5 separate regions of the Homo sapiens genome follow, and regions 1, 2, 4 and 5 are each reported to be linked to region 3. Evidence: microRNA targets listed by miRTarBase, many of them from high-throughput screens and not tested one by one. Region 3 holds a microRNA gene; each other region holds the end of a gene's coding sequence.

Region 1 (4,473 bases), not on the chromosome of region 3:
ATTGGAGTATGACGCCAAAAGCCCTATGCCAGGTACTTACTAGCCATTATTTATCTAAGCAGCCTTTGGAAATCAAGATTATCTCCACCATTTTGCCAATGAAAAAACTGAAGTTCAACAAGACTGCTTTTGAAGGTTATGAAGAAAACCCAGACTTTCCTGCCTACACTGGGTGCGGTGGCTCAAGCCTATAATCCCAGCACTTTGGGAGGCCGAGGTGGGTGGATTGCCTGAGCTCAGGAGTTCAAGACCAGCCTGAGCAATACGGTAAAACCCCGTCTCTACTAAAATACAAAAAATTAGCCAGGCATGGTAGTGGTGTGCACCTGTAGTCCCAGCTACTTGGGAGGCTGAGGCAGGAGAATTGCTTGAACTGGGAGGCAGAGGTTGCAGTGAGCTGAGATCACACCACTGCACTCCAACCTGGGCAACAGAGTGAGACTCTGTCTCCAAAAACAAACAAATAAAAAAAGCCTTTCCTGCCTAAAGTCCACGTTCCTTCCAGTACCCGCACTGTTTGTCTAGAAGCCAGTTTCTAGCACGAGACCCGGGAACAGCTCAGCACGATGTCCGGTCACAGCACTTGACACTTGAGCTAGGCGGTGGGAGCAGAGGTCGGATGTCCGAGATCTGCTGGGGCTGAACTGAACACCTGTTGAATCATGCTTGTCTAGTAACAGCAAAGTCACCAGAATGCAGAGAATGAGCATCCATCACTTTGCAGGTTCGGAGGACCCGGCATGTGACGGGCAGCAGTACTCTTCCTGCTCTGCAAAAGAGCCCCTACATGTGGCATTTAAGGGCTTTCTGCCCCCTCCTCTGCCCAGGCTTGCTATCACGTCTCCTGGGTCTCCTGGGATCTAGTCTAGAACATTCCAGGGGGCACTGCCCACCTTCCCTAAAAGCTGTGGGATCTTATGCTGAAGCCTCTGCCTGCTAATTGACTCCGGCTTTTCCTTCTATCCCTCATGAGAACCATGGGCCAGGGCTGAGGCTGAACACATGGAATTGGGCACGGGTCCCCATCGAGAGCTCCAGAAAGCCCAGGCTGCATCTTGCTCAGCCTGGCTGGACGCAGAAGGTGTGTTTGTTCTTAAGATATCCTAATACATAACAAGCAATGTGCTCTTCACAGAAACAGCTGCAGTGAAAAAAAAAAAAGATCACACAGCACTAGAGCCCATCTTGGGAGGTGACCTCAGGTCTCACACCTCAGTATCTCCAGATCCCCAATGCTAAATGTACCCCATCAGGGCGTTTGAGACTTTCCATCAAGGAGAATTTAGCTATATAAATTTAACATTATAGATTTAACTACACAAAACAGAGAAGTCAGCTGTTTGTCTAAGCTTTCAATGACAGATATTTTAATTGTGGAATTTTTAAAGCAAACAAAGCAATGGAAACTTCATTTTTATTCTAGACCAGTCTATCCCAGACATGCTGATTATGGTTGGCTGTGCTGAGTCCTCATTTACCGTATGAAATGCAAATGTCTGTCAATTGCAATGCCTGGGGCCAAGCCAGGCCAGTGGACTTGTGTGCAGTTCCCACCGGAGCCAGGAGCTGCTCAGACAGCAGACCCAGCCCAGTCCACTGGGTTTTGCAAACACAGGCTCCCTCTGCAGCAGCATGGGCTTGTGGAAGGGAGGCATGCCGCCGCCAGCATGCATGCCAGGGGTCCGGGGTTCTCCCCGTGTCTGCAGAGGTGAGGGGTACAAAGTGAGCTGGAAACAAAACACTGTGTTCCCCCTTGGCCTTGAAGAAGTGCCTCAACCAACTCCTCGCCAGCTGCAGAGTACTCAATCTCCTCACAGAAAGAATGTGTACAAAAAAACTAGAAGCTTTTCTTTTTCCCAAATGGCTGTTGAATTTATTTGCTTGATCAATAATGGTCCTGGCAAAAATTAGTTAACCAATGCTGAGACATTTGTAATGAAATACTAATTTTAAAAATCCATGACACCTTGATAGAAATTAGAGTTTACACAAACAAAAAAGGAACCTTCGATATTGCCAGCAGCTATAAAGTGAACGTACTGAGACCGACAGGACAGCAAGAAGGCATTTGCACATTTATATCTGACACCCGACCATACTTTCAGTCACCAGAATATCTTCTCTCCAGATTTAAAAAAATAGTATGCTGATTTCTATAACAAAGCTTTTTTTCGTACAAAAATCAAATAATGGCCAACGAGTCACAACAGTGCAATAGGTAGAGGATTAAAAACTGCATCAAACAGGTGCTGAAAATAAATACTACCTAGGAGAAGGAGGTGAGAGCCCTCGTGTGGGGTTTGTTTTCGACCCCTTGAGTGTGTGTGGGGTTTGTCTTCCGAGCCACGAGCCTGGCCTGTCTCGCGGTGCTGTTCACTCTGACAGAGTGCGCCTGCAGCACGTTGCCTCCAGGGCCCAGCCTCCCAGAAGCCTCAGAGCATCAGAGCATCCGTCTCATCGGATGGACCAGAAACAAGAAAATGGGGTGGGGTGAATCACAGCTATCATTCAAAGGAAAGGAATTTTTTTCTATTGCTCAATCTTGTCAATTGGGAGTCCACCAGTAGGTTCACTGAGATGATATGGATAATTTCAAACTTTTGTTTAAGAGCATATATATGGCTTATTCAGGCAAGGAGACGTGTACATTCTAGCCCAAGCAAGCAATCGGAGTCATTCTGTTTTTAAGGAAGGTCAGTCGTTTAAAAGATTTCTGGTTTGAACAACATCCTCTGTGGATGCACCAGGCCAAGGTGACTACCTTTGACCAACCCAGTGAGAAGGCCTTTGCTGGTCCCCGCAGTGAGGAACTGGCAGGAACGGGCAGCCTCCTCCCCGCTGGACTGCACTGCCGGGGGCCGGTGGGCAGGCTCCACAGGCAGCCCCTGTCTGTGGCCAGACAGGCCGTCCTGGTGACTCGGGCTTATAGACTGTGGTTTAGAACTGCAGAAGGAGAGAGGAGAGTGGGCCAGGGAACACCCACCAGGCGCTGCTCTGACCAGTCAGAGAACGTGAGGCAGCTCCCCCATAGGGATCTGCACCGAGAAGGTGTGGAAGGCACAAGCAAGAGTGACGGTACCAGAGATCCCAGAGGGCGTGGCTCGCGGCGGCCACAGCAGGCGCAGCGCTGACCTGGGGTGGTTCCCCCCTTGAATGAGAAAGAGATCCTGATTCTGCTGTGATAAAAAAGCAAAGAAAGACGGTTTTTGGTTTAAAAAGAAGCCACTCAAGGGTTAAAATAGTTATTTTAAGTTAACAAAGAAAATTAATCTTCAAATAAGCTGACACTATCTGGAAAACTCATCTGTCCCTAAAGCCCACAATGCGTCCACTGCTTCGTCCTCCCATGGAACCTGAGCCTGACGTGAAGGAGTCAGACGTGTGACAGAGGAAGAGTCTGAGAAGAGAAGACACCTTTACAGAATGTACAGCGAGAGAGCCGGCCTGGCCCCCGGGTTACAGTAAGATGCACGGGTCCTTTCAGTCTCACGGACTCCAGACGGCCACGCAGGCTGCTCAGATGGACGTCTCCTTCCTATCCCTGCTGGGCGATGGCTTTGCCGGCTCCTTGCCTGCCTTTGGCTGCTCTTTAGCTGCTTTTGGCTCAAGGACGCCGTCTCTGGGCGGCTGGACGGCACCCCCGCGCCACTCAGGCTCCTCGTCCTCCTGCGCCTGCTGCTCGGCCTTGGCTCGCTGCATCTGGAGCAGCCGCAGCTGCACGCGCAGCTCGATGATGGCCTCGCGCTCCTCATGAATTGCTTGATTCAAATGATTGTTCTTTATCTTGGGGAATGACAGAAAGGGCAGTTATCACTTAAGGAAGTCAGAGGACGATTTCTCAGGAGCAGAGCGCGGTTAGCAAGGGCATCCTACAGAGGAATCTGGTTTTGTTTAAGTCAATGGGTTGTGAAACAGAAGACAAACACAGCAGGAATGCACAGTGCACAGTGAGCCACGTGACTCCTGAGAATGTGAGGCTGGAAACCCTGCTCCTGGTTACTAGAGAGAAACACATCCATGTGCCAACAGAAACCGTTATTTTAATAATTCAGTATCCTAGTGTTTAAAATAGACAACTTATAACTTTGAACTGGCTTCTCAACAGCCCTTAAACAAGGAGAAAATAAAAGTAATTTTAGCAGCAATTAGAAAGGGGAGTTAGAGATCAGATAAAAAACTAGATTTGTTTCAAAGGTGAATATCCTTTGTCTTTTGTGAATAGTATTACGGTAATTCTGAAATGTCCTACTCAATCAAACTACAGAAAATTACTATCAATTCTAAATCATCTGGATGTACTCGGCAAAGTTTAGGTCCTGAGGAATAGCAGCGGCCCTGCTGCCGTGGCCTCCACTCTGTGGCAGGTGCCAGCCTCCCCTGCGTGGGTGTGGCATGGACTAGGCTCTGCGAAGGGGGCATAGGTGTAAGCGCAAGCACCGAGTGCCACGCATGCACCCTGCCCTTGGCGACTGG
Region 2 (4,473 bases), not on the chromosome of region 3:
CAGTGAGCAGAGATCGTGCCGCTGCACTCCAGCCCGGGTGGTAGTGTGAGACTCCATCTCAAAAAAAAAAAAAGAGTATGATTGCTTCTTATGGTACCACAGGAGGAACCTTGCATCCACCTTCCTGGAAGCACATACTGACCACATGGAGTGGGCTTACTGGTGTGGTGAAGCTCTCCAGAGCCCTACAAGTGTGACCCTGGGCTAGTTACTTCAACCTCTCTGAGAGTTTAATTTCTCCATTTGTTAAATAGATAGAGGTTTGTTAAGTGCTTAGCACCCAGTGAATGACCCTGCTTCTGGCTTGTATTAGGACTTTTGCTTAAAGTCACTTTACCTCTGTGTCTCACTTGCCTCATCTGTAAAATCGGGCTATTTGAAGCAATGAGATGAAAGATGGGATAGTATTTTTGTTATTCCTGTTTATCTTGAGAACTCATTGTTTGATATATATATATATATATATATATATAGTCCTCAGGTGACCTGAGGATGGGGCCGCCCCAAAACACAACAGCTTGCCTGGGAGAAGATCCCAGAGGTCTTGTGTGGTATGTCCAGGGCTAAGGGGAGGAGTTGGCGGGAGTAGGGGTGTTTCCAGGTTCCTGGCATGCTCATAGGAAGATGCAGTATTCTTCAGCGAAATGCCACCAAGTTCAGAGAGTCTGCGGGTTCCTAGCAGTGTCTTTTGGAGTACCAGTTTACAAGAGGAAAGTTGAAAGTAGTTCCATATTACCTCCTTTCTTTTCCTACTCTTTTAGGGGGGTACATGGTATGGAGTAGACATCAACAACGAGGACATTGCTGACAACTTTGAAGCTTTCGTGTGGGAGCCAGCTATGGTGCGGATCAATGCGCTGACAGCAGCCTCTGAGGCTGCGTGCCTGATCGTGTCTGTAGATGAAACCATCAAGAACCCCCGCTCGACTGTGGATGCTCCCACAGCAGCAGGCCGGGGCCGTGGTCGTGGCCGCCCCCACTGAGAGGCACCCCACCCATCACATGGCTGGCTGGCTGCTGGGTGCACTTACCCTCCTTGGCTTGGTTACTTCATTTTACAAGGAAGGGGTAGTAATTGGCCCACTCTCTTCTTACTGGAGGCTATTTAAATAAAATGTAAGACTTCAGATAACTTTGTAAATTATTTTGGCATGGTACTCATAAATGTCTGGCTGTAGCTCAGAATTTTAGCTTTACATGCACTTGTCCAACAGGGAGACAAGAGCATCCTGGGGTGAGCTCCACTAGAGTGGCCCGTCTGGAAGTTTCACTGTGGTTGCATTCTTTGTTCCAGAAGTGGCTGGACAACACGCAGTTGCTTTCTTCTGGCATCATCTTATTTAGCCCTGGCCTAGCCAGACACTGCTCTCAGGGTTTCTCTGGTTTGAGTAAATGGGTTACATTACCTTGTCTGCCCCTTCTATCTCCATATTCTTTTGGTTTAGTCTTTTGTTCCCTCTTACTCAAGACTGTGAGAAGGGTGTTTTAGGGAGGGCTTATGCTCTCTAAACTCTAGTGATCCCTTGGAAGTCTACTAAGGAGACGACTGAAAGCACCCACCTAGTCTTTTCAGTTCAGCCCCCAGTGATCTTGGTCCTTCTGCTTTCTTGTGACCAATGGGAGTTTGGAATGGCTGGCACAGATGAGCTGGAAATCCAGCAGTGTCTAACATCCTCCTGATTTACACTGGTCCTGATAGCTGGCCTGCACCCTGCTGTAGTTGGTCGTTGTTAAAAGCTGGAGGTAAATGATGATGTCATTGTCAGCCATTGAGACTTGCTAGCTAAAACTGGGAAGTGATTTTTAAAAAAAATTCTCTGAACCCAGCCACTCCTGGTTAGATGGACTCTAAAGCACAGAGGATGGCAGGCAGGTCCAGGCTTTGGAGTCTGGCATTCCTCCTAACTTGATGGTCTTTAGGTAGACTAATTTTTCTGAGCCTCTGCTATTCTACCTGTATGACAGGGTAAGAGTAGCTGGCTCAAAGAGTAGTGAGACTTAAATGTTTATTTTTATGTTAGAGACACAGTTTAAGCCTAAAAACACTTATTCTTTTTTCTGATTTTAAATATTTCAGGACCTGAGGAATCAAGTCAGGGGCAGAAGGACATTTTGTAAAATGAGGAAGTCAAGGCCAGGCCATGATGTCAACCTGGTCTCCCGCAGTCAAAGCCTGATTGGCTGGCCAGAGCCTCCTGAGTAGGCAGTCAAGCCAGGGAGGGGCTGGGCAGTGCCTGCTGCCCTGTTGTACTGGTTTTGTCCTTGAAGGTAGTCTCTCCTAGCTGAGAGTCAGAAATGATGTATCTCAAGGCGTTTCCTCTGGATACACACACTGAAAGCAGGGTTGAGCGGTGGCAGGACAGTCACCCTAGGTGGCTTTTCTGCAGTCCTGAGGCAAGTTTTTGTTGTTTCTGAGACAGGGCCTCACTCAGTTAACTAAGCTGGAGTGTGCAGTGGTGTGATCTCAGCTCACTGTAACCTCCACTTCCCTGGCTCGATATCCTCCCACCTCAGCCTCCCAAGGAGCTGGCAATACAGGCACATGCCGAGCTAATTTTTCAGTTTTTCTTGCAGAGACAGGGTTTCACTATGTTGCCCAGACTAGTCTCGAATTCCTGGGCTCAAGTGATTCTCCCGCCCCAGCCTCCCAAAGTGCTAGGATTACAGATATGAGCAACTGTGCCCGCTGGCAAGTCTTGTTATACTTCATTCCCCTGGGTTACCTGCCTCTCTGCACTTGAGCTGCAGAAAGACCATGATAACACAGATGATAAGTGTGGCCACATACCATTTACCTCTCTGGGGCAGATAGACCAGTTTCACCATCTTTTTTATTGGATACAGAGCCATAAATTCTCTGATGCCCATGTGAGTCCTTTTAAATACATACACTCAGGTACATTCAGCAAAGGGCATCTTACGGGTGACATGGAGCAAAGTGCTGGGATGGCGATGCCTGGGTGGGGCAGAGAAGTGTGGCCAGGGAAGGCCCCCTGGGGGCTGGAGGTACAGGCACCACTTCAGAAACAAAAATAAAACCAAAAATTGCTCTCCACCCCTCTGCCTGTGCTTGGGGCTGGGGAAGCTACCCTCTCACTCAGGCCCATTATAGCCTAGCTGTGTAGGAAGGTAGGGCCTAAGGGCCAGTTATGGAGGTTGCCCACCAGTGGTGCCCACTAGAACCAAGCCTGCTGGCATCAGCCACAAAGCAAGCCTGGGTCACCTCAGGCCTCTGCCCTGGATACAAGACCCTTGTCAGGGCAGAGCTGAGGCTGGCAAGCCCAAGGCCAAGCCTCCCTTGGGCCATGCTGGCAGTGGCAGAGGAGGCTTGGCCTCACGGTGGGGAGCCTGCCTGATTGTCAGGGCAGCCTTGGGACTGGCTGAGGTCCCAAGGGTTTGGGGAGGGAGTCGTTGCCTTAGCTGGCCCTGGTATTCTGATCTTTACCCAATCCTAAACCTTATCCTCAGGCAAGGGCTGCAGATGAACACACTTGTCCAGGAATACATACATACACACAATACACAGCAATATATACAGAAATGCAGGCCGGGCACAAGGCTGGGTGAGAAAGCATGGCCACTGGGTTGGAGAGAAGGGCCAGGCCCCCAGGGGAAGGAAGTTACACTCATCAGGGACTGACAGGCTGGGACAGGTCCCATGGGTTCGAGTTAACTTCTCTGGGCATTTGGGCCTTACACCCACTCACCATCTCCTGTTTTTACCCCAAGTCCAACAGGAACTGGGACTTTGGCACCAATAGTCACTCTGGGAAGGCCTCCTTCAACTTAGCGCCTTAGAGGGATTGGGGCCCGGGTGACTCCCCACTGGTGGCCCCAAAGATAAGAGACCAGGAGTGGGGAAATAGGCAGGACCCAAAGGCAAGGGATGGAGCCAAACCTTGGAGTAGCAGGCCTTGGGAAGGAGGACTTTTTTTTGTTTTTCTCTTTTGAGGCAATTCCTGAGGGGCTGGCTCAGACTCGAGTGTCACAGAACCAAGAAAACAGGAGCTGCCTTGATCCTTAGGTGGTCTCTCCTGGCTGGGGAAAGGCTGTGGTGCTGGGCTGGGCAGGCCACCCACTCTTTATTCCTGCAGGGATGCATATAAGTGCACCTTCATTTCCTGCCGGTGCTGTGGGGAAGCAGCCTGAATAAAGCATGAAGTACTTAAGCCAAGTACACCAACCTCCCAGGTAGGTACTGGGGCCAGACTGGATGGCAGGGGGTGGTAGAAACACCAAGTGGCCACCCCCACTGGGCCTCTACACATACCTGGGGCCCCTGGAGCAGGGCTGCTTGCTCTCAGATATTCCTTTCTTGCATCTTACTGGGTATGAGATGTGAAGGGATCCCGTTTGGGTGGGTAAAGATGGATGAAGTGCTTCTAGGGATAGCCAGGCCCTCTGTCCCTGTTCCCATCCTCAGCCCTAGCTGTATGGTCACCAAAAAAATCCATGCATAGAGCCTCCCAGCAA
Region 3 (4,463 bases):
TGACAACTTGTGCATCAATAGGTTCTTTATCTGCACAGACAAGTTTGTCAGCTGGACACAGAACAGAATTTTCTTGAGACATGAAGTTGTTTACACAGAAAAGACCCACTTTTCCTTCTCCCACATCAGCATCCACAATGCCTGGACTAATACAGAAACGCCCAAGTGATTTGCTCTTGTCTAGAATGGCTCTAGAGGTCCAGCTGAGGCCTGGCGGTCTTTCGACCAAAGGAGAAATAAGTTAGGTCCAGTTCAGTGTGAAAAATCCAGTGTGAAAAATCCAGCACATATCAACACTCAAGGAATGTTTATGGAAGAATGAATGAATGAATGAACAATTAATTCTCACCTTCCAAAAGTCTTACAGACTCCAGACATTCCAAAGCTACACACCAGAATGAAAAAAGGTTCTAAGATTTGACTGTGTATTTCTTTCCTATTTCTGTTACCATCCATGAGAAGTTACCAGTGAATGGGTGATACAGTTTGGATAGTTTTTCTTGCCCAAATCTCATCTTGAATTTCAATCCTCAATGCTTGAACATGGGGTCTAGAGGGCAGTGTTCAAGTCATGGGGGTGGATCCCTCATGGCTTGGTGCTGTCTTTGCGACAGTGGCTTCTTGTGTGGCACCTCCCCCTCCCACTCTCTCTCGATCCTGCTTTCACCATGTGACATGCCTGCTCCCCCTTTGCCTTCCATCATGAGTGTAAGTTTCCTGAGGTCTCCCTAAAAGCCGAGCAGATGCCAGCACTATGCTTCCTGTACAGCCTGCAGAACTGTGAGCCAATTAAACCTCTTTTCCTATAAATTACCCAGGCTCAGGTATTTCTGTATAGCAATGCAGGAACGGCCTAATCCAATGGGTCTCAAGCTCAGATACGTGCTAGAATTATCTGAGGAGTTCCAAATGTACTAATAACTGGAACATTTTTGGAGATTATGATTTGATTGGCCTGCGGCGTGGCCTAGGCGTAACAAGTTCTTTATAGTTTCTCCAGTGATTCAAACGTGCAGCCAAGTTTGAGAACCACTGGTAAGTCATTTATTACTAAATTACTGAGAATCTTAGGTCATGGGAAAGGGTTCAACTTTAGATACTTCAGAGCTGATAACTTCGTGGCTTCCGTGCCCATTTTAAATTTATCTAGGCTGAATACATTTATTTGATAATAAGTCTGATTTTTAAAGGTTAAGATCCAGGGTGTCCTAAGGATAAAGATTTAAGGCTACATGGCCAACCCATTACTCCTCTCAGGATAAGAATATGAAAAAAATAACATTTCTTAGCAAGTATAATAGTATTAGCAACTAATATTTCTTAGCAAGTAGTATTAGTAATACTTCTTCTACTATTTCTTAGCAAGACTTTGAAACACTAACACATTTAAAGGAATACTGTCATTTCCTTCTTTGAATCTTTTGGTAACTTTTTGTCAAAGGGTAATATATATTTCTGTGGGCATTTTAAACATGAAAATTAGCACCAGGAGTCTCAGAAAACATTAAGGTGTTTACCCGCCTTGAAACAGAGATTAACTCTTGTAGCTTGGATTTCCTAGCTTCACTGATGTGAGAACCCACATACACCAAATCACCTTAGAAAGGGAAATCTCAGAAAGCTTGTTTCAGATTCACTGTGGATGCTTACAAGGTGAATTTAGAAGCTATTCCTGTATGAAATACTGTTAATGACACAGAACTGCTGGGGTGTATCCTGCAGCTTCCTTCACATACTCTGTGCCCCAGATTGAAGACGCTGGGCTTGAATTCAGGAAGCATCTTTGAGGTTTCTAGCTCTGAACACTTGCATTTATATGAGGATAAGTAAGTGGAAGGGAAACAAAATAATGCACTGGAATCTAGGGGAAAGGTATTGTTTCTTTTTTCTTTCCTACCACTAATGTCCTGTGCTTTCTCTGTGCTGATACCCACATGGAAGGGTCCATATTTCACAACTCAAACCCATGACCATGTCAAGCCAACAGGTGCCCTGAATAGCACCTACTGAAATTGGAGGACCCAGTGCTGCTCTTTCATTCAAACGAGATAATGAAGCATCAGGAACACAGGCCAAAATGATCCTAGGCATTGCACTAAAGCTACTGGGGTATGGCAACATTTATTTAGAAAGTGGGAAGCCAATTGTAAAAGAAAAAGATGAGATGAAAATAGTAAGATGAAAAACAGAGAGGGAAGTCTGTTTTGAACAACCATCTAATTTCAGTTCACTGTCAGACTTAGGGGGATTGAACTCATACTGTATAATGTTCCTCATCATTCTGGGAAAGTGCCCACATTCAGAGATGATGGTGCAGAATTGAGTGTTCTTTAATTTTTGCACATCAGTAATTAACGTTGTCACATGGTTGGCTCAGGTCACACTCAGGCTTCAGATAACCAGGCACATTCCAATGGAAGAAAACATCTTTCAAGCACTCATATGTTGGGAATGAATTAGGGTGTTTGTGGTTCATTGTATGTGTGTTTTTAAACATAATTTCTTATTTTCTGATCATCTCTATCAGTGTGCATAATAAGGACAACTCTGTGCTATGGTATGAATATTTGTTTCCTCCAAAACTCACACTGAAATGCAATCCCTAATGTGGCAGTATTGTGAGGTGGGGCCTTTTAGAGGTGACTGAATCACAAGGGTTCTGCCCTTATGAATAGATTAACCCATTTGTGGATTAATGGGTCATCACAGGAGTGGGCTGGTGGTTTTTTAAGAGGAAGGGAGACCTAAGCTAGCACATGAGCACGCTCAGCCCCCCAGCCATGTGATGCCCCACAATGCCTCAGGACTCTGCAGAAAGAGTTCCCCACAGCAAGAAGGTTCTCACTAGATGCAGCCCCTCCACCTTGGACTTCCCAGCCTCCACAACTGTAAGAAATAAAGAAAAGGTTCTTTATAAACTACCCAGTTTCAGCTATTTTGTTATAAGTTATAGAAAACGAACTAAGACACCGTATTCTTTCTTAAGAATTAATTTCTTCATAACTGAGATGAGTCACAATTAAAAAGAGCAGCATGTTTTGCTTTGTTGATGTTTTTTAAACGAGGGGTGTGTAATACACATCCACCTCTCCAAATTGCAGTTTTATGATAGATCATTGTTAAATGCTAAGGTGGTCTGAGCTTATAGTTCTATTATATCCTGCTAATAAAAGACTATGATCAAGGATGTCAACTCAAGAAACTTCCTAGTGTAACCTCCAGGGCTATTTGCAAATTCTCAGGAATGACATTACAAATAGGTTGTGGCTAATAAACTCGTTACTATTCACCTAGTTTTCTTTCTTTCTTTTTTTTTTCGAGATGGAGTCTCGCTCTGTCGCCCAGGCTGGAGTGCAGTGGTGCACTCTCTGCTCACTGCAAGCTCCGCCTCGTGGGGTCACACCATTCCCCTGCCTCAGCCTCCCAAGTAGCTGGGACTACAGGCGCCCGCCACCACGCCCGGCTTTTTTTTTTTTTTTTGTATTTTTAGTAGTGACGGGGTTTCACCGTGTTAGCCAGGATGGTCTTGATCTCCTGACCTTGTGATCCGCCCATCTCTGCCTCCCAAAGTGCTGGGATTACAGGCGTGAGCCACAGCACCCAGCCCTAGGGAATTTGTTTTTAAAGAAGACTCTCCTACTAAAAAGTGAAGAAAAATAAACAAACAAAAAACAGAATAAAGATGGGGGCAAGGGAGTGGAGGGAACCAGTGTAATCAACAATTCAAAAGTGAAATTAAAAGCTTTCTTCCCCACTCCAACTAGTAAAGACTATTACTGACACATTTTCAAATACAAAGAGAAGATCTTCCCTCAAAAAGTTATTTCCGGCCGGGCGCGGTGGTCACGCCTGTAATCCCAGCACTTTGGGAGGCCGAGGCGGGCAGATCACGAGGTCAGGAGATAGAGGCCATCCTGGCTAACACAGTGAAACCCCATCTCTACTGAAAATACAAAAAAATTAGCGGGGCGTGGTGGCGGGCACCTGTAGTCCCAGCTACTTGGGAGGCTGAGGCAGGAGAATGGCGTGAACCCAGGGCAGGTGGCTTGCAGTGAGCCGAGATCGCGCCACTGCACTCCAGCCTGGGCGACAGAACGGGACTCCGTCTCAAAAAAAAAAAAAGTTATTTCCAAAGATGGTAATGAGCTCCTTTGTCCTAAATCTTTGGCCTCTTTACAGTTTCTTTAAAAACAAAAAAGAAGTTGTCCAGGCAGTATGGCTCACGCCTGTAATCCCAGTACTTTGCGAGGCCAAGGCGGGAGGATCACTTGAACCCAGGAGTTTGAGACCAGCCTGGACAACACGGTGAAATCCCGTCTCTCCAAAAAGAAAAAAAAAATACAAAAATTAGCTGGGTGTGGTGGCACGTGCCTGTGGTCCCAGCTACCCAGGAGGCTAAGGTGGGAGGATCTCCTGAGACTGGGAAGTTGAGGCCGCAATGAACCATGACTGCACCACTGCAC
Region 4 (4,473 bases), not on the chromosome of region 3:
CCCAGGGGAAAAGACGAGTGAAGAACCTGGAAAGGAGAAAGCCTGTGAAGCTCACGCCAGAGCCCACTGTTATGGGAAGTCAGGGACCCCAAATGGAGGGACCAGCTGAAGCCATGGCAGAACGTGGATTGTGAAGATTTCATGGACATTTATTAGTTCCCCAAATTAATACTTTTATAATTTCTTATGCCTGTCTTTACTGCAATCTCTAAACATAAATTGTGAAGATTTCATGGACACTTACCACTTCCCCAATCAACACCCTTGTGATTTCCTATGCCTGTCTTTACTTTAATCTCTTAATCCTGTCATCTCATAAACCGAGGAGGACGTATGTCGCCTCAGGACCGTGTCATAATTTCGTTAACTGCACAAATTGTAGAGCATGTGTGTTTGAACAATATGAAATCTGGGCACCTTGAAAAAAGAACAGGATAACAGCAATGTTTAGGGAACAAGAGAGATAACCTTAAACTCTGACCACTGGTGAGCCAGGCAGAACAGAGCCATATTTCTTTTCTTTCAAAAGCAAATGGGAGAAATATCGCTGAATTCTTTTTCTCAGTAAGGAACATCCCTGGGAAAGAGAATACGCACCTGGGGGGTAGGTCTATAGAAGGCCCCCCTGGGCGTGGCTGTCTTCTATGGTCGAGGCTGTAGGGGTGAAATAGACTCCAGTCTCCCACAGCGCTCCCAGGCTTATTAGGAAGAGGAAATTCCTGCCTAATAAATTTTGGTCAGACCGGTTGCTCTCAAAACCCTGTCTCCTGATAAGATGTTATCAATGACAATGGTGCCCGAAACCTCATTAGCAATTTTAATTTTGCCTCCATCCTGTGGTCCTGTGATCTCGCCCTGCCTCCATTTGCCTTCTGATATTCTATTTACCTTGTGAAGCACGTGATCTCTGTGACCCACACCTATTCGCACACTCCCTCCCCTTTTGAAACTCCCTAATAAAAACTTGCTGGTTTTACGGCTTGTGGGGCATCACGGAACCTACTGACATGTGGTGTCTCCCCTGGATGCCCAGCTTTAAAATTTTTCTTTTGTACTCTGTCCCTTTATTTCTCAAGCCAGCCGACACTTAGGAAAAATAGAAAAGAACCTACATGACTATCGGGGCAGGTTCCCTGATAGCCCACTCCTGCTGGGGCCTCTGAGAAGCCTGCCAAGAGCCTCGGGGTGTTCCCTCCAGAAGACAAGAGCCTGGGGAGACCCCTACGCTGAGAGGAGGGCTGCCCCTCAAGGCAGAAAGCAGCACTGCAACAGCTGTGGGTGGATGGACTTTGGGGGTCCAGGCTGAGCCTCTAGTGTCTGCACGTGGGATGGGAGGCCGGTGTTTGTTGAGACTTGGACAAGTCTTGCAGTGTGGCAAGAGACGATGGCCAGTGTGCAGCAGAGAGCCATGCGGGGGTCAGCTCTCCTCCTACTGAGCCCTCTTCACCTCTCCCAGCCCCTACTGGTGCACTCCCATTTTTGCCTAAGCTGTATGAGTTTGGTTTCCGGAACTTGCACCCAAACTGTCCTTACTGAAGTACAAATGACATTATAAACCCGAAGCCCTGGAGACAAATGTGACCTCCCTTCGCTCTTGCTCTAGAAGCAAGGCCGGGTGGGCTGGGATCCCACCCTCAGAGAACTTAGGTTGTGAAATGCTCCAAGGGGTGCTTTTCTTGAAATTACTGACAACACCTAGTACCTGATGGCCAGTTCCAGATGCTAACAAGATGAAGTCGACCAACTGCTCCTTTTTACCAAACAACTTTTATTTGCATGTGGCTACTTAGTAAATAGTAATCAGTGATCATCCTAGACAGCTGCCAGGCAACAAAAGGAGAGACACATAGAAGCTTTTCAAGGTATCAGGTTGCAAAAAAAAAAAAAAAAAAAAAAGTATCAGAGTGATCAGAAAGTGAGCAGTGAGCAGTAGTGAAGCCAGAATTTTCTTTCCCATGACTCCTGTAGTTCTGTCCCTGTCCCCGCAAACCCCAGGAGGGGAAAAATGTAGATACAAAACTGTAAGGCCTCAAACCAGTTAGGACAAGTCCCTTTCTCGTAATAATTTATTTCATTCCCAATGACAGAAGGCACGTGCAGTTACAGGGCTGTGCCCTATTCGTCTGGGTCAACAGAAGAGCACAGCTTTCTTTAGAAAAACATTTACTTTAAAACCAAGCACCTTGATTTGATATTTTAGTGTGCACAACTTTGCCCGTTGAGGTCCTGGTGAGCCCTTGCCCAACCCCGTGGGCACCACCATTCCGCCAGGCCTCGGAGGGCCACCGGGTGCTTAAGAGAATGTGAGGGGGGTGAGTGCAGGTGGCGCAGCGCGGTTCCTGGGACATGGGTCCTTCACTCCTCGCTGAGATGTTGCGGCAGCCTTTTCTTCCAATGCGGTTGTGGCAGGAGAATCCACGGATGTAATGTTTTCACCTTTTTCCCTGAGGGTGCTTTCTGAGGAACCAGTCCTTAAGAGGTGGGGTCTTGGATTCCTGACCCAGGCGTCCGGCAGCTGCTCAGTTTCCGAGATGTCAGACTCATGGAGGAGCAGGCTATGCCCTTCCCTCCCCATTCCCCACCCCTCAAGCCCCAGGTCTTACTGTATAATGATTTATTTTCCCCACACGTCTACCCTCAAAATTGGCTTCATGCAAATTTCCCTTGAATCCTAATGCTGGAGAGGAAAGGGGAGGGGAAGTGGGAGGGTGGTGGGCAGGGTGGCTTGACCCTGTCAGCCTCCCAGGGAACTCGGGACCACGGCTCCCCAGCACAGGCTGAACAAGTACCAGGAACAAGGTCTATGCATCTGCGTTAGATCTGAAGGCCTTGGCAGCACCTCTTCAATTTTAAGAGAATCAGGCCGGGCGCGGTGGCTCACGCCTGTAATCCCAGCACTTTGGGAGGCCGAGGCGGGCGGATCACGAGGTCAGGAGATCGAGACCATCCTGGCTAATACGGTGAAACCCCATCTCTACTAAAAATACAACTAAATTAGCCGGGCACGGTGGTGGGCGCCTGTAGTCCCGGCTACTCGGGAGGCTGAGGCAGGAGAATGGCGGGAACCCGGGAGGCGGAGCCTGCAGTGAGTGGAGATCGCGTCACTGCACTCCAGCCTTGGAGGAAGAGCGAGACTCCGTCTCAAAAAAAACAAAATAAAACAAACAAAAAAAAGATCAGACTGAGTATTCCCCTAGACCTACTCTAGGGAAGCCCATAGCTGAGGCAAAATCCCCAAACAGACTTGGCATTAGTGGGGCTAGGATTCTCCATTAGTGGAGTGAGGGCTTTGATGTGAGTTGTCTAGAAGAGCAAGTTCATGGTCAGATAATTCCAAGAGACAGTTGTTTTCCCAGGAAAAAGAAAAGCTTCCTCCTATTCAGCAGAGTGAATTTAAATGTCCAAACAAAGTGTGGTGTCATCGCTCAGTCTGCAAGGACGTTCTGTTAATCCCGTGGACGTTTTAGTGGATCTTCCGTTTGTCATCCAGATGGCAAACGTTGGAAGCTGCTTTTGGGGACCAATAATTGGAGCTTTCAAAGAGCATTTCCCCCTTGGCCTGGCGCCTGTGCATCAGTGGTAATAGATGCTGAAGGCATGGAGAATGTAGAGCAGCGTGGCGATGAAGGCGAAGAACTGGAAGGAGGTGGAGAGTGACTGTTAGAGACAGCAGCGCCAGCTCCTGCCCACCCCTCAGGTACCCTCAGCCCCACTGCCCAGGAGGCCACGCATGACCCTGCCTCCTCGCCTCCTGCGTGGCCTGAGGGCAGCAACCCCTGGCCAACAACTCCCTCTTCTGGAAACTCTCCATCAGGGCCTCCCTGGGGCCGTCCTGGTGTCCTGCCCCGACTGCAGTCTCCACCTCATCTGCACCTGGCTGTGAAGCAGGCTCACCTCCACCACAGCTCTGGGCCCATATCCCACGCTGACCTCCTGCCCGAGGCCCGCTCTCCTCTGCCCACCTCCAGCAAATCTGTGTTCTGAACACTCCTACAGCTCCCCTCGCTGGCCCAGAACTCTGCCCTGAGCGGCTGCTTATCAGCTCCTCGTGAATGTTCAGACATCCTCCAGCTCTTCCTGGCTCACACTGAGCCCCTGACGTTTCCTCACAAGCCTGACAAGCCCAGTGGGCCCCAGGGTCCTCCTCTCGCCCCACTCCCTGAGCCTGACCCCTGTGGCCCCTGGCTCCTCCTGCCTCCCTTGCCAGCCATATGCAAAGCCACCCCAAAGGCTACTGATTTCCCTGCCTAGCTCTTGGGACATTCATTTTTCCCTTGTCTCAGCCACCGGCATCCCTCGGCAGGACTCCTCATGGCCTCACTTGTCCACTTCTTCCTGCCCTGCCCCTCGAATCTGCTCCACCATTTGGGCAGGGCAGGCAGAAGTGGACAAGTGAGGACACTTCTCACTCATGGGGAGAACACAATCCCGTTGCCCCACGTTGAAGCTGTATGATGGCTCTGCTCTTTTCTC
Region 5 (4,000 bases), not on the chromosome of region 3:
GTACCCCCTTATTTGAGGTTTTGTTTTCCACGTTTTCAGATACCCAACTTCAACCACAGTCCGAAAATTTTTAATGGAAAATCTACAAATAAACAATTCATAAATTTTAAGTTGATCTTGGAGGTGGTCCAGTCAAGCTAGAGTTTCAGGTTTTGTCCGTTTCAGATGGCTGCCAAATGCAAGTAGGGCTCTTGAGTGTTTCCAGGAGGTGTGGCTGTGAGTTGTCTGATGAAATATTTTGCCATCCTGCTCCGTCCCACCCAGGACATAAGTCATCACTTTGTCTGGAGGATCCACACCATGCACTCCCTGCCCATCAGTCACTTAGAAGCCGCCGTGGTTATCAGATGGACTGTCGTGGTATCACGGTGCTTGCATTCCAGTAACCCTTATTTTACTTGACAGTGGTCCCAAAGCACAAGAATAGTGACGCAGGCAACTTGGATATGCCAAAGAGAAGCTGTAAAGTGCTTCCTTTACGTGAAAAGGTGCAAGTTCCTGACTTAATAAGGTAAAAAACAGAAAAACAAAAAACCCTCATATGCTTCTATGAAGCGTAAGAAACCCTCATAGGTTTCTAAAGATTTAAGGTAAGAATGCATCTTCTATCCATAAGAATTTTCTTAGTCTGTTTTCTGTGGTCATAACAGAATAGACAGGCATAAGGGAGAGTCACCAGAACAGGACACTGAGTAATTTATAAAGAAGAGAGGTTTACTTTGGCTTACAATTCTGGAGGCCTAGGAGTCAAAGATCTGCCCACTATATCTGGTCAGCTTCCAGTGAGGCCTCTGCCATGTCACAGCATGGCAGAGAAGTGGAAAAGGAAGTGAGTGTGCCAAAGGGAGCCAAGGCAAGGAAGAACCTCACTTTGTAACAACCAGCTCTGACAGTTACTAACCGAGTCCTGCTAGACAGAGTGCTTGCTTTGGGATCCGAGATTAGTTCTTCCTCACCCTCGCTGTTTGCGGAGGTGGCAGCTGCTTTCTTAACTGTGTCCAGGTGGTGACTGGCAATGCCTGTGGTGCTGCTGGGGGTAATCTGGTGCACTCAGGATGATCACAGCTCACAGGCCTCCAGGTCAGCCAGGTGCAGAGTGGCAACTCTGAGGTGAGCCCCTATGATTTGGATGTGCTGCTCATGGGCTGCTGCTGGCAGCACCCAGCAGGCATTGTAGGGGGTGGTAAAGCCCTGGAGAAGCCGCACTGTCTCACTGGGAGCATGCAGAGGAACAGGGATGGCAGCAACATGCCCGTTGGTGATTTGGTGACTTTGCTAACGGCATTAGACCGGGGTATGTTGGAGAAGTCTCTTTCCCCAGTTGGCAGACAACAGATAAGCTTTCTGTGGAGAAGATGTACTTGAGCCTTCTTGGTCTATGGGGTCATGATGCCAGGACCTTTGGGGACGAGGAGCTCCTCTCCCACAGCTGAGGCTAGAAACATACCAGCTGGTGGTTGGCTCTTCAAGCCCAGGGTGTCCCCCAGCCTACAGCATTCCTACCACCCTCCTCCTAGAAGCCCACCTTCCTGTGGGACCAGAGTGGTCTTAAAAGTAATTTTGGCAAATTTTACCTGGTGGTGACCTCCAAAACAGAGGCACAAAGTAAAGATAGAAGGCAGCAACACATGTGAAAACAGAACAAAAACTGCCAGACCCACTGTAGAGTGTTCCTCAGACCTCACCCAATCTCTCGATCAGAGCCAGGCCCTGGCCACTCTCCCTTGATCCTCCTGTAGAAATGGGTGTCATCACTCATTGGCTTACTCAAATTTCATCCTCACTGCTAGTTGTGTTCTGAGGTTTTGGGTGGTCCCAGCTAGCCAGCTTCACAAGGGTGATTTATCCCTGTCATCAAAGATGAGTCTTAGACACCATCTAATGCTCAAGTAGTTTATTCCAGCAGTGCTCTTACAAGACAGAAAGCAGGAGCTGGCTGGTGTCATAGGCCGGATATAGTCAGAGGTCAGATGACCAACTGACTAGGAGAGCTTCTATTTGAGGACCGTTCTCAGAGTTTGGGAGATCTTTCCCATTTCTTATACATGTATTCAGTCTGGGTCAATTACCAAGTGTTTCTTTCATAGAGCAAGTTTAATCTAGTAAGGTTAGGCTTTGTTCTAAAATTTATGAAAGTTGCATCTGTGCTGAGGTGGCCTTGTCTTCTGGAAATCCCTAGGCCAGGTTGCATCCTGCTAAGTGACATGTAATATCACCACTGTGAGATGCTTGAGTGGGCCTTATCGCTATCGTTAATCTTAAAGCCATGAGATGTTTCTTGTAGTATACTACAGTTATTAAAATATTCTCTTTCTAAAAAAACTAAATTTTATTTGTGAACTCCTTTCCTATGTATTTAAGTTCCCCGATGTTTTTAACCTAGGAAAAGAATCTAACCAAATGAATCCACTGAAGCTTCCCTTTTAAAGTCCTAAAATATCCTTTGGGGTTGTAAAACAGACTTTCAAAGGGCAGTAAGTAATTTCAAAAGCTTTCTCTTTATCAAGAGAATCAAAAGACAATATGGCAAAAGACAAACAGCTTGGCTCGTGATGCTTTGGCTACTTGTATATCTTCTGACAGAGCAGAAGAAAGAAAGAATGAAGGAAGGAAAGGGAGGGAAGACAAGGAAGGAAGAAAGAAGGGAGAACATAAGAGCAAACAGCAAAATATTAAAAGATTGATTTAAAGTTATTTTTAAATATCCATATAATCTGTCAGTCGATGTGTTTAAATGCAACAGTTACCATTTTTAAAGAAATGGTCTATTTGTCATAATCCTCTTTGTATACTTACTTTTGCTAATACCTATATTTCTAAAGAAAAGCAAAAATTTTTCTTACAAGAAATATGAACACAACTCTATAGTATCACAATGCATAATGGTACCAAGAGACAGAGCCCTCTCTCTCCCGTGAGTTAGATTTAACCTTAGTGAACACAAAATCCTTTATGATCCCACGCTCTCCATTAGGCAATGTCAGAAAACATCCACAGCAAATGCTATAATGCACTTCGAACATGAATAAACATCAAGGCTTAGCTGGTTTTGCTAATGTTTCCTCATGACTCAAAAAACTATATTTTTAAATACAGAGTTCACTTGCTACTTTCACATGAACTTATTTTTAAGAACTAAAACATTACCCTAAAAAGTATTAATAATTTATTAAGCACCACTCTAAAAATTATTTCTGTAGACCTTTTCCACACAAGAAAAAAAATCAACATTATTTGTCTTTTCAGTTCAGAGGTCTCATGGTATTTTTTAAACATACTTAAAAGCATTCCATTTGTGATTTTCATGTACAATGTGAAAGTCTGTCCAAAAGTCATCCAAACCTAGGGTCAATTATACCCTTAGATGCTAGTTTTGTAGCTCACATGCACCTGAGCTGCAGAACCTTAGCAATAATACTCTGGTCTGGAACCTTCACTTTTAAAAGTCACCTGAGATTCCACACTTGACCTAGAACAAAGCAGCAATTTCTCTGAGTCATCCCTGTGGCTTCGTGTCCAGAGCTCACCTACACTTTGAGACCTGGGAAACAGGGTCTCAAATTGGATATAAGTCTCCTTTGCCAAATCATCTTCCCAAAAAGGTTCTGATTTACATTGCAGTTTGCAAACTTTGTACAACAAGAAACAAATCAATGGTAAGATAACAACACAGGCAGTACTGGTCACCACGAGAAGGAGAGACCATTGAGAATCATCTCCTTCAACTCTTTCAGTAGAAAAGGTGATGCATTGGTCTTTCTGGGGAGGCACTCCTTTTGGACAGACACAGGCCATGTATTGCCCACCGGGTTCCAAGCCATCTATGGTTACTTGGTTCTTGCTGGAGTCTGCATTCAACAGCAGCAGGTCCTTCCCACCATACTTGGAATACAACACAGTCACTGCAGAGTTATGTGTGGTGTTGATCATATTCCACGTCAATGTCACACTCTCTTTAGTCTCACTGACCACCCTGAGGTTTTCTATTGCGGCATTTGTC

Evidence for each region. Region 3 holds the annotated microRNA hsa-miR-4481 (GGAGUGGGCUGGUGGUU, at 2,709-2,725, shown strand). A microRNA usually pairs through its seed, bases 2 to 8, with sites in the 3' UTR of a target mRNA and lowers its output. Matches are read on the target gene's strand: a 7mer-m8 pairs with bases 2 to 8, a 7mer-A1 pairs with bases 2 to 7 and ends in A, and an 8mer does both.
Region 1: the mRNA of RALBP1 is a reported target of hsa-miR-4481. Seed matches in the 3' UTR shown: 7mer-m8 at 2,962-2,968.
Region 2: miRTarBase lists CCT7 as a target of hsa-miR-4481. Seed matches in the 3' UTR shown: 7mer-m8 at 1,080-1,086.
Region 4: the mRNA of MALL is a reported target of hsa-miR-4481. Seed matches in the 3' UTR shown: 7mer-A1 at 3,087-3,093.
Region 5: miRTarBase lists LRIT3 as a target of hsa-miR-4481. Seed matches in the 3' UTR shown: 8mer at 2,231-2,238.

The regions. Positions count from the first base shown.
Region 1 is chr18:9,534,981-9,539,453 of GRCh38, reverse strand. RALBP1 (ralA binding protein 1) reads right to left here. Exons shown (of 10, transcript NM_006788.4): 10 at 1,340-3,783. The coding sequence ends at 3,517. Among named protein-coding and RNA genes, the nearest start is that of RALBP1, 62 kb to the right of the region's middle.
Region 2 is chr2:73,251,879-73,256,351 of GRCh38, forward strand. It overlaps CCT7 (chaperonin containing TCP1 subunit 7), which reads left to right. Exons shown (of 12, transcript NM_006429.4): 12 at 762-1,127. The coding sequence ends at 983. It overlaps FBXO41 (F-box protein 41), which reads right to left. Exons shown (of 13, transcript NM_001371389.2): 13 at 2,812-4,473. Among named protein-coding and RNA genes, the nearest start is that of CCT7, 20 kb to the left of the region's middle.
Region 3 is chr10:12,651,443-12,655,905 of GRCh38, reverse strand. MIR4481 (microRNA 4481) reads left to right here and starts at 2,709; the gene lies at 2,709-2,768. The region is part of intron 2 of CAMK1D (calcium/calmodulin dependent protein kinase ID); the gene reads right to left.
Region 4 is chr2:110,082,122-110,086,594 of GRCh38, forward strand. It overlaps MALL (mal, T cell differentiation protein like), which reads right to left. Exons shown (of 4, transcript NM_005434.5): 4 at 1,749-3,636. The coding sequence ends at 3,574. MIR4436B1 (microRNA 4436b-1) reads right to left here and starts at 4,402; the gene lies at 4,312-4,402.
Region 5 is chr4:109,870,195-109,874,194 of GRCh38, reverse strand. It overlaps LRIT3 (leucine rich repeat, Ig-like and transmembrane domains 3), which reads right to left. Exons shown (of 4, transcript NM_198506.5): 4 at 1,880-4,000. The coding sequence ends at 3,406. Among named protein-coding and RNA genes, the nearest start is that of LRIT3, 24 kb to the right of the region's middle.